Regions from separate parts of the Homo sapiens genome. Here regions 2 and 3 are each linked to region 1. The links come from fine-mapping of genetic effects on gene expression. A gene starts in region 1. Each other region holds a variant in brackets. All regions are shown on one strand. Distances are from middle to middle.

What was found. PIP is the estimated chance that this variant, and not a neighbour inherited with it, causes the effect.
Region 2: its variant is the best candidate, but not a certain one, in a credible set for the expression of SMPD2 in whole blood (TOPMed, PIP 0.57).
Region 3: its variant is the best candidate, but not a certain one, in a credible set for the expression of SMPD2 in whole blood (TOPMed, PIP 0.79).

Annotation. Positions count from the first base shown.
Region 1 is chr6:109,438,319-109,442,410 of GRCh38, forward strand. SMPD2 (sphingomyelin phosphodiesterase 2) reads left to right here and starts at 2,406. Exons shown (of 10, transcript NM_003080.3): 1 at 2,406-2,853; 2 at 3,039-3,135; 3 at 3,234-3,310; 4 at 3,656-3,749; 5 at 3,892-3,981. The coding sequence starts at 2,804. It overlaps PPIL6 (peptidylprolyl isomerase like 6), which reads right to left and starts at 2,310. Exons shown (of 8, transcript NM_173672.5): 1 at 2,138-2,310. The coding sequence starts at 2,272. RefSeq lists silencers at 1,901-2,720, 2,362-2,567 and enhancers at 2,981-3,050, 3,211-3,290.
Region 2 is chr6:109,682,290-109,686,381 of GRCh38, forward strand. The region is part of intron 1 of AK9 (adenylate kinase 9); the gene reads right to left. Among named protein-coding and RNA genes, the nearest start is that of AK9, 6.9 kb to the right of the region's middle. The variant C/T (reference allele first, on the strand shown) is at 2,313.
Region 3 is chr6:109,648,769-109,652,860 of GRCh38, forward strand. All of the region lies in intron 8 of AK9 (adenylate kinase 9), which reads right to left. Among named protein-coding and RNA genes, the nearest start is that of AK9, 40 kb to the right of the region's middle. The variant G/A (reference allele first, on the strand shown) is at 2,309.

The sequences.
Region 1 (4,092 bases):
GCCTATAATCCCAGCACTTCGGGAGGTCGAGGAGGATTGCTTGAGCCCAGGAGTTCAAGACCAGCCTAGGCAACACAGTGAGACCCCCATCTCTTCCAAAAAAAGAAAAAAAAAACTAGCTGAATTTTCATATTTGAATATAACTACAGTAGGTAAAAGTTTAAGAAAGGGAAAATTGACATTATTAATACAATAAAGATATTGTTTTCTCGACCTACTGTCTTCTACATCAGGGGTTGGAGAGGAATAATTTTTAGATTTGTAAACAGTTTTTTGTTTTTTTTTTTAAGACAGAGTCTCACTCTTGTTGCCCAGGCTGGAGCACAGTGGCACGATCTCAGCTCACCGAAACCTCCACCTCCCGGGTTCAAGCGATTCTCCAGCCTCAGCTTCCCGAGTAGCTGGGATTACAGGCGCCCGCCACCATGCCTGGATAATTTTTGTATTTTTAGTAGAGATGGGGTTTCACCATGTTGGCCAGGCTGGTCTTGAACTCCCGATTTCGTGATCTGCCCGCCTCAGCCTCCCAAAGTGCTGGGATTATAGGCAAGAGCCACCGCGCTCGGCCTGTAAACAATTCTAAAAAATCAAAAGAATTGTATTTCACGTTATGTGAAAATTATACGCAAGTCAAATTTCGTGTCCATAATATGGTTTTACTGGAATACTGTCATTCATTTCCATCTCTGTGTCTGCTTTTGCAACACAGGAAAAAGCTAAACAGGTGTGACTGAGACCCTATTGCCAAGAAGGCCTAACATATTTACTATCTGGACTTTACAGAAAAAAACTTGTCAACACTTTCTTTACAATGTGGAGTCGGCACAGAAAATATGTGCCTTCAGAAAAAGAGCGAAAAAAAAGAGAAAAAAAATCTCTGAAACTCATTAATACATTAACTTTGTAATTAACTTCATGGCCATTAACTTTGGTAATAAAAGGTTGCTGATCCCGTCTGCCCAAGCAACACAGACCACAATTTCTACTTTTGATGATTCATGTATTATTTTCACAGACTTCTGATCACTTGTTTTCTTTTTATTATTTATTTATTTTGAGACGGGGTCTGGCTCTGTCGCCCAGGCTGGAGGGCAATGGCGCGATCTCAGCTCTCTGCAAACTCCGCCTCCCGGGTTCAAGCGATTCTTGTGCCTCAGCCTCCTGAGTAGCTGGGATTACAGAGACCGCCACCACGCCCGGCTAATTTTTTGTATTTTTAGTAGAAACGGGGTTTCACCATGTTGGCCAGGCTGGTCTAGAACTCCGCCTCTGCCTCCCAAAGTGCTGAGATTATAGGCGTGAGTCACCGCGCCAAGATATCTTCTATTTGGGAACATTTTGTTGTCAAGTATCCAGCTGGGTACTTCGGGAGTTAAAAACATTAATTAAGGCATGGTCCTGGAGTCAAGTGAGCTTCGGCGAGAAGTTTGCCATGGACAGCATTTCTGGAGCAAACCCTGTAAGAAGGGCTGAATTCTACATGCCGACATTTCATACATTTCTCCTGCATTTCAGGTTGTAAGTGTGCTGCAGCATGACTGATCTGGCCAAATTCTTCCAGTTTCCTCAAGTGCTTTTCCTTTAGTATCGTTCTGAGTGTTTACAAAGAAATGATTTTCCAAAGCACTTGTGAAGCATCTAGTTCGATTGGAACGCAGTGACGGCTCTATAAAATTCAAAGAAAAGAATCTCCCCGCATGAATAGTTAACAAAAATCGCTTGGGCCGAGGTGGCGGGGTTGTAAAAATTAGCTAGTTATATAGTAATCATTTTTCCATAAATTTAAATATCTCTAATTAAAGAAAAAATTGACGTAGAACAAAATCTGCGGGTGTGTGTGTGTGTGTCTCGGAGGGGATTACCTTATCTCCCAGCGCGGTTCTGAACCCTTCCTTCGCTCAGTTCTCCCTTTAAAAGTCGCCAAGTGGAACGCCCGCCCCCGGACCCGCACTTGCCCCCCTATACTCTCCTCCCGGTCCTCCAGACGGAGCCCGCCCGGCCAGGACACGCCAGCCCCTTCCTCGGCCGGTGGGGCCTCGACCCCCGCCGCCTCGAGGAGGCGCGGCGCCTGCAGTCCACGCGGCCGAGAGCGGGTAGCGGGGAGGGCCGCCCACGACGGAGGTTTCTCTGTGGTTACCTCAGCGGCGCTCTTCGCAATCTGAAAGTTGGGGCAGCTGAAGAGCCCCACCACCTTCACCTGCAGCGGCCGCTCCGGCAGCGACGGCGAGCCGCACCTAGCGTGCGGGGGCCCGCACGGCTGCGGCCTTGCCATGGCCGCGCCCGGGGACGCCCGGTGACCCCAAACACTGCGCGTCGCTCCGGCAACCGCGCGGCCCCGCCTCCGCCGCTCGCAGGAGGCGGGGCCCAGGGGCGGGTCGAGGGCGGCCCGTGGCGGCTGGGCCTTTCCTCAACTTTGCGCCTGTTGCTGGGCCGCCGGCGCGCGGGCGGCCGCGACCGCCGGGGACGAGCTTGGAGGAAAAGGAACCGGGAGCCGCCCACCCGGGGGCGCTCTCCGGACCCCCAGGGTCCTAGCGCGCGGCCCTTACCGAGCCTGGGCGCCCGGATTTCGGCAGCGGATCGCCTTTCCGGGTTGGCGGCCCGCCTGATTGGGAACAGCCGGCCGGTTGCCGGGGGAACGCGGGAGTCGGGCCCGACCTGAGCCACGCGGGCTTGGTGCCCACCTGTGCGCGCCGCCTGCGAAGAAGGAACGGTCTGGGGAGAAGGCGCCGCCGGCCGCCCCCGTCCCCACCGCGGCCGTCGCTGGAGAGTTCGAGCCGCCTAGCGCCCCTGGAGCTCCCCAACCATGAAGCCCAACTTCTCCCTGCGACTGCGGATCTTCAACCTCAACTGCTGGTGAGTGCGTCTGCGGAGTGCGGTCTGGGGGCCACCTTCCGTTCGCACCCATGCAGCCTTCCTCCCCCTATCCCGCCCCACGATCTCAGGGTGTAGGGAAAACCCGAACCTCCAAAGTCCACATCTGGCCCCAGCGCCGGTGGTCCCAGCAGTCGCCTCCCCTGCCCCGCTCTTCCCTTCCTTAGGGGCATTCCGTACTTGAGCAAGCACCGGGCCGACCGCATGAGGCGCCTGGGAGACTTTCTGAACCAGGAGAGCTTCGACCTGGCTTTGCTGGAGGAGGTGAGATTGTGCAGCACGGTGCGGAACCCAGGCTGGGAGGAGGGACAGACCGTCCCACTGGGGAAAGACCAAGCAGGCATCCTCACCGCTTCCCTCAGGTGTGGAGTGAGCAGGACTTCCAGTACCTGAGACAGAAGCTGTCACCTACCTACCCAGCTGCACACCACTTCCGGAGGTGAGAAGCCCACTGGCCTGAAGCCTGTTGTCATCCCAGGAGGCTCTTGGCCCTGCCAGCCCTTCCCTATCCTGCCTGCACTCTCCAGTCTCCTCCAGCCTCCTCTCCCTCTGGATGTGAGAGAAGGAGAAGGGTGAACCAAGAAGGTCCTATGACTTCAGCCCATTTCAGCTTTGTTTTCTGGCTGCCCTATACTCCTCCAAAGGCTGTCGCCTTGGTTCTAGGGCTAGTCCCAGCAGTAGAAAAAGAAAAAAATAGCTGATCAGAGCTGGAAGACAAGGGAGGGGAAGAAGGCTGGGTGTCTCTCCCTGTTTTTCTGGTTATTAAGCAGGGCTTGGCTTTCAGCGGAATCATTGGCAGTGGCCTCTGTGTCTTCTCCAAACATCCAATCCAGGAGCTTACCCAGCACATCTACACTCTCAATGGCTACCCCTACATGGTAAGGCAGACCTTTGACCTCTTCCACCTCCCTTCCCCACCTCCAGTAATACAAGGTAGAGGAGGCAGCCCTCTGAGAGCTGCAGGGGATGGGCAGAAAGATGGTGGCGGTGCCCTGAGTTTCTATCTCCTCCTGCCTGCAGATCCATCATGGTGACTGGTTCAGTGGGAAGGCTGTGGGGCTGCTGGTGCTCCATCTAAGTGGCATGGTGCTCAACGCCTATGTGACCCATGTGAGTGAAGCTGGCAGTGCCTAGGGCTGGGACATGCAGCCCAGTCCTGGGACAGAGAGATGGTACTTCTCTAGCTCTCATACCTGGGGATGAGGTGTGGGGGCAAGATCT
Region 2 (4,092 bases), 240 kb after region 1:
GGTGGCGGGTGCCTGTAGTCCCAGCCACTTGGGAGGCTGAGGCAGGAGAATGGCGTGAACCCGGGAGGCGGAGCTTGCAGTGAGCCGAGATCGGGCCACTGCACTCCAGCCTGGGTGACAGAGCAAGACTCCGTCTCAAAAAAAAAAAAAAAAAATCAATGAATCCAGGAGCTGGTTTTTTGAAAAGATCAACAAAATATATGGACCACTAGCCAGACTAATAAAGAATAAAAGACAGAAGAATCAAATAGATGCAATAAAAAATGATATAGGGGATATCACCACTGATCCCACAGAAATACAAACTACCATCAGAGAATACCATAAACACCTCTCAGCAAATAAACTAGAAAATTTAGAAGAAATGGATAAATACCTGGACACATACACCCTCCCAAGTCTAAACCAGGAAAAATCGAATCCCTGAATAAACCAATAACAAGCTCTGAAATTGAGGCAGTGATTAATAGCCTACCAACCAAAAAAAGTCCAGGACTAGATGGATTCACAGCCGAATTCTACCAGAGGTACAAAAAGGAGCTGGTACCATTCCTTCTGAAACTATTCCAATCAATAGAAAAAGAGGGAATTCTCGCTAACTCATTTTATGAAGCCAGCATCATCCTGATACCAAAACCTGGGAGAGACACAACAAAAAAAGAAAATTTCAGGCCAATATCCCTGATGAACATCAATGCAAAAATCCTCAATAAAATGCTGGCAAACTGAATGCAGCAGCACATCAAAAAGCTTATCCACCACAATCAAGTCAGCTTTATCCCTGGGATGCAAGGCTGGTTCAACATATGCAAATCAATAAATGTAATCCATCACATAAATAGAACCAATGACAAAACCACATGATTATCTCAATAGATGCAGAAAATGCCTTCAACAAAATTCAACACCTCATTCACGCTAAAAACTCTCAATAAACTAGGTATCAATGGAACGTATCTCAAAATAATAAGAGCTATTTATGACAAGCCCACAGCCAATATCATATTGAATGGGCAAAAACTGGAAGCATTTTCTTTGAAAACTGGCACAAAACAAGGATGCCCACTCTCACCACTCCTATTCAACACAGTATTGGAAGTTCTGGCCAGGGCAATCAGGCAAGAGAAAGAAATAAAGGGTATTCAAATAGGGAGAGAGGAAGTCAAATTGTCTCTGTTTGCAGAGGACATGATTGTATATTTAGAAAACCCCATTGTCTCAGCCCAAAATCTCCTTAAGCTGATAAGCAACTTCAGCAAAGTCTCAGGATACAAAATCGATGTGCAAAAATCACAAGCATTCCTGTACACCAATAACAGACAAACAGAGGGCCAAATTATGAGTGAACTCCCATTCACAATTGCTACAAAGAGAATAAAATACCTAGGAATACAACTTACAAGAAATGTGAAGGACTTCTTCAAGGAGAATTACAAACCACTGCTCAAGGAAATAGGAGAGGACACAAACAAATGGAAAAACATTCCATGCTCATGGATAGGAAGAATCATATTGTGAAAATGGCCATACTTCCCAAAGTAATTTATAGATTCAATGCTATCCCCATCAAGCTACCACTGACTTTCTTCATGGAATTGGGAAAAACTACTTTAAACTTCATGTGGAACCAAAAAGGAGCTCTCATAGCCAAGACAATCCTAAGCAATAAGAACAAAGCTGGAGGCATCACGCTACCTGACTTCAAACTATACTACAAGGCTACAGTAACTAAAACAGCATGGTACTGGTACCAAAACAGATACATAGACCAATGGAACAGAACAGAGGCCTCAGAAATAACACCACACATCTACAACCATCTGATCTTTGACAAACCTGACACAAAAAGCAATGGGGAAAAGATTCCCTATTTAAAAAATGGTGTTGGGAAAGCTGGCTAGTCAAATGGAGAAAACTGAAATTGGACCCCTTCCTTATACTTGATACAAAAATTAACTCAAGATGGATGAAAGACTTAAACGTAAGACCCAGGACCATAAAAATCCTAGAAGAAAACCTGCGCAATACCATTAAGGACATAGGCACGGGCAAAGACTTCATGACTAAAATACCAAAAGCAATGGCAACAAAAGCCAAAATTGACAAATGGGATCTAATTAAATTAAAGAGGTTCTGCACAGCAAAAGAAACTACCATCAGAGTGAACAGGCAACCTACAGAATGGGAGAAAATTGTTGCAATCTATCCCTCTGACAAAGGGCTAATATCCAGAATCTACAAAGAACTTAAACAAACTTACAAGAAAAAAAAACAAACAACCCCATCAAAAAGTAGGCAAAGGAGGCCGGGCG[C/T]GGTGGCTCACGCCTGTAATCCCAGCACTTTGGGAGGCCGAGGCGGGCGGATCACGAGGTCAGGAGATTGAGACCATCCCGGCTAAAATGGTGAAACCCCGTCTCTACTAAAAATACAAAAAATTAGCCGGGCGTAGTGGCGGGCGCCTGTAGTCCCAGCTACTTGGGAGGCTGAGGCAGGAGAATGGCGTGAACCCGGGAGGCAGAGCTTGCAGTGAGCCGAGATCCCGCCACTGCACTCCAGCCTGGGCGACAGAGTGAGACTCCGTCTCAAAAAAAAAAAAAAAAAAAAAAAAAAAAAAAAAAAAAAAGTAGGCAAAGGATATGAACAGACACTTCTCAAAAGAAGACATTTATGCAGCCAACAGACATATGGAAAAAATGCTCATCATCACTGGTCATTGGAGAAACGCAAAACCACAATGAGATACCATCTCACACCAGTTAGAATGGCAATCATTAAAAAGTCAGGAAACAACAGATGCTGGAGGGGATGTGGAGAAATAGAGACGCTTTTACACTGTTGGTGGGAGTGTAAATTAGTTCAACCATTGTGGAAGACAGTGTGGCGATTCCTCAAGGATCTAGAACCAGAAATACCATTTGACCCAGTAATCTCATTACTGGGTATATACCCAAAGGATTAGAAATCATTCTACTATAAAGACACATGCACACATATGTTTACTGCAGCACTATTTACTACAGAAAAGACTTAGAGCCAACCTAAATGTCCATCAATAATAGATTGGATAAAGAAAATGTGGCATATATACACCATGGAATACTATGCAGCCATAAAAAATGATGAATTCACATCCTTTGCAGGGACATGGATGAAGCTGGAAACCATCATTCTCAGCAAACTATCACAAGAACAGAAAACCAAACACTGCATGTTCTCACTCATAAGTGGGAGTTGAAAAATGAGAACACATGGACGTAGGGAGGGGAACATCACACACTGGGGCCTTTCGGGGGTGGGGGGCTATGGGAGGGATAACACTAGGAGAAATACCTAACGTAGGTGATGGGTTGATGGGTGCAGCAAACCACCATGGCATATGTATACCTATGTAACAAAACTGCACGTTCTGCACATGTACCCCAGAACTTAAAATATAATAATAAAAAAAGAAAAAGAAAAGGCCAAGTGGAAGCTCATGACATTGCATACTGGGTCCTCCACCCCTGGGCAAGATAACCAAGAGTAAATCATTCTGAATGAAGAGTGATACCAACCACAATTTAAAAGATGTACAATCCTGCTTATTTCTCCAGTCTTGCTTTTGTAGAAGCTAGACAGAGCACAACAGATGAGGGTAGACTTCTGCAAATTTAACAAGCTGGTAGTCCCAGTTGCAACTGCTGTGCAGATGGGATCTTTACTAGATAGACACAGTCTCTTGTATTTTTTACGCAGCTGATGATCTGGCAATGTGTGCATCCTTTTCAATCCCTATCAAGAAAGAGGATCGGAAGCAATTTGTATTCACTTAGAGCAGTGACAGTGAACATCCAGTCTTACCCAAGGACTCTCCTGCTGTTTGAGACAATATAGTATAAAGGGGTCTTGATCCACAATATTGACAATATCAGACCTAGTGAGCAGGAAGTTGCAAGTGTCCCGGATCCCCTTATAAAGACACATGAGCAGTAAGTATAAAGTGAGAGATAAACCTACAAAGTTTGAAGGTCTTATTACTTTGGTAAAGTTTTAAAAGGCCAGTGGTCTGGGACATTCTGTCCAAGGTAAAGGATGAGTTACTGTACCTTGTAC
Region 3 (4,092 bases), 210 kb after region 1:
ACTGGCAGAGACACAACCAAAAAAGAGAATTTTAGACCAATATCCTTGATGAACATCGATGCAAAAATCCTCAATAAAATACTGGCAAACCGAATCCAGCAGCACATCAAAAAGTTTATCCACCATGATCAAGTGGGCTTCATCCCTGGGATGCAAGGCTGGTACAATATATGCAAATCAATAAATGTAATCCAACATATAAACAGAACCAAAGACAAAAACCACATGATTATCTCAACAGATGCAGAAAAGGCCTTTGACAAAATTCAACAACCGTTCATGCTAAAAACTCTCAATAAATTAGTTATTGATGGGACATATCTCAAAATAATAAGAGTTATCTATGACAAACCCACAGCGAATATCATACTGAATGGACACAAACTGGAAGCATTCCCTTTGAAAACTGGCACAAGACAGGGATGCCCTCTCTCACCACTCCTATTCAACATAGTGTTGGAAGTTCTGGCCAGGGCAATCAGGCAGGAGAAGGAAATAAAGGGTATTCAATTAGGAAAAGAGGAAGTCAAATTGTCCCTGTTTGCAGATGACATGATTGCATATCTAGAAAACCCCATCGTCTCAGCCCAAAATCTCCTCAAGCTGATAAGCAACTTCAGCAAAGTCTCAGGATACAAAATCAATGTATAAAAATCACAAGCATTCTTATACACCAATAACAGAGAGCCAAATCATGAGTGAACTCCCATTCACAATTGCTTCGAAGAGAATAAAATACCTAGGAATCCAACTTACAAGGGATGTGAAGGACCTCTTCAAGGAGAACTACAAACCACTGCTCAATGAAATAAAAGAGGACACAAACAAATGGAAGAACATTCCATGCTCATGGGTAGGAACAATCAATATCGTGAAAATGGCCATACTGCCCAAGGTAATTTATAGATTCAATGCCATCCCCATCAAGCTACCAATGACTTTCTTCACAGAATTGGAAAAAACTACTTTAAAGTTCATATGGAACCAAAAAAGAGCTGGCATCGCCAAGGCAATCCTAAGCCAAAAGAACAAAGCTGGAGGCATCACGCTACCTGACTTCAAACTATACTACAAGGCTACAGTAACCAAAACAGTGTGGTACTGGTACCAAAACAGAGATATAGACCAATGGAACAGAACAGAGGCCTCAGAAATAATGCCGCAGATCTACAACTATCTGATCTTTGACAAATCTGACAAAAACAAGCAATGGGGAAAGGATTCCCTATTTAATAAATGGTGCTGGGAAAACTGGCTAGCCATATGTAGAAAGCTGAAACTGGATCTCTTCCTTACACCTCATACAAAAATTAATTCAAGATGCATTAAAGACTTAAATGTTAGACCTAAAACCATAAAAAACCTAGAAGAAAACCTAGGCAATACCATTCAGGACAGAGGCATGGGCAAGGACTTCATGTCTAAAACACCAAAAGCAATGGCAACAAAAGCCAAAATTGACAAATGGAATCTAATTAAACTAAAGAGCTTCTGCACAGCAAAAGAAACTACCATCAGAGTGAACAGGCAACCTACAGAATGGGAGAAAATTTTTGCAACCTACTCATCTGACAATGGGCCAATATCCAGAATCTACAAAGAACTCAAATAAATTTACAAGAAAAAAAAACCCCATCAAAAAGTGGGCAAAGGATATGAACAGACACTTCTCAAAAGAAGACATTTCTGCAGCCAACAGACACATGAAAAAATGATCATCATCACTGGCCGTCCAAGAAATGCAAATCAAAACCACAATGAGATACCATCTCACACCAGTTAGAATGGCGATCATTAAAAAGTCAGGAAACAACAGGTGATGGAGAGGATGTGGAGAAATAGGAACACTTTTACACTGTTGGTGGGACTGTAAACTAGTTCAACCATTGTGAAAGTCAGTGTTGTGATTCCTCAGGGATCTAGAACTGGAAATACCATTTGACCCAGCCATCCCATTACTGGGTATATACCGAAAGGATTATAAATCATGCTGCTATAAAGACACATGCAAACGTATGTTTATAGTGGCACTATTCACAATAGCAAAGACTTGGAACCAACCCAAATGTCGAACAACGACAGACTGGATTAAGAAAATGTGGCACACATACACCATGGAATACTACGCAGCCATAAAAAATGATGAGTTCATGTCCTTTGTAGGGACATGGATGAAACTGGAAACCATCATTCTCAGCAAACTATCGCAAGGACAAAAAACCAAACACTGCATGTTCTCACTCATAGGTGGGAATTGAACAATGACAACACATGGACACAGGAATGGGAACATCACACACCGGGGACT[G/A]TTGTGGGGTGGGGGTAGTGGGGAGGGATAGCATTAGGAGATATACCTAATGCTAAGTGATGAGTTAATGGGTGCAGCACACCAACATGGCACATGTATACATATGTAACAAACCTGCACGTTGTGCACATGTACCCTAAAACTTAAAGAATAATAATAATACAATTAAAAGAAAAAAAAAAGAAACTCACTAAAAGCCGCAGAACTACATGGAAACTGAACAACCTGCTTCTGAATGACTACTGGGTACATAACGAAATGAAGGCAGAAATAAAGATGTTCTTTGAAACCAATGAGAACAAAGACACAACATACCAGAATCTCTGGGACATATTCAAAGCAGTGTTTAGAGGGAAATTTATAGCACTAAATGCCCACAAGAGAAAGCAGGAACGATCTAAAATCGACAACCTAACATCACAATGAAAAGAACTAGAGAAGCAAGAGCAAACAAATTCAAAAGCTAGCAGAAGGCAAGAAATAACTAAGATCAGAGCAGAACTGAAGGAGACAGAGACACATAAAACTCTTCAAAAAAATCAATGAATCCAGAAGCTGGTTTTTTGAAAAGATCAACAAAATTGATAGACCACTAACAAGACTAATAAAGAAGAAAAGAGAGAAAAATCAAATAGATGCAATAAAAAATGATAAAGGGGATATCACCACCGATCCCACAGAAATGCAAACTACCATCAGAGAATACTATAAATACTAGAAAATTTAGAAGAAATGGATAAATTCCTGGACATATACACCCTCCCAAGACTAAACCAGGAAGAAGCTGAATTCCTGAATAGATCAATAACAGGCTCTGAAATTGAGGCAATAATTAATAGCCTACCAACCAAAAAAAGTCCAGGACCTGACGGATTCACAGCCAAACTCTACCAGAGGTACAAAGAGGAGCTGGTACCATTCCTTCTGAAATTATTCCAATCAATAGAAAAAGAGGGAATCCTCCCTAACTCATTTTATGAGGCCAGCATCATCCTGATACCAAAGCCTGTCAGAGAAACAACAAAAAAAGAGAATTTTAGACCAAGATCCCTGATGAACATCGATGCAAAAATCCTCAATAAAATACTGGCAAACTGAATCCAACAGCACATCAAAAAGCTTATCCACCACGATCAAGTTGGCTTCATCCCTGGGATGCAAGGCTGGTTCAACATACGCAAATGAATAAATGTAATCCATCATATAAACAGAACCAAAGACAAAAACCACATGATTATCTCAATAGATGCAGAAAAGGCCTTCAAAAAAATTCAACAGCCTTCATGCTGAAAACTCTCAATAAACTAGGTATTGATGGGATGCATCTCAAAATAATAAGAGCTATTTATGACAAACCCACAGCTCAGGAGTTTGAGATCATAATGGAGCTTACTTTTTCACTTAACATTATAACTAAACTTCCCCTACACTTTTTATAAGATCACTGTCAATGTAACATTTTAATGGTTTTATAAGATTATGTACTGTGGATATAGCATAATTTATTTCATATTCTTCTGCTGTTTGACATTTAGGTATGTTACAATACTTTATTAGTTATTTTCAAGCATTTCTTTTTATGAAAGTTTTAAAAATTACTTTCTTCTTTAATAATTACAAAAATAACTTGTACTAACTGCAACCAGTGAAGGAATGCAAAAAAGTACATAGAAACAGTTAACACGACTTCTCCCTGCTCCTCCATGCTGCCCGCACAACACAGTGCGTCTTTTTATACAACCATTCACCTCATTGATATAAATATATGCACACATATAAATGTT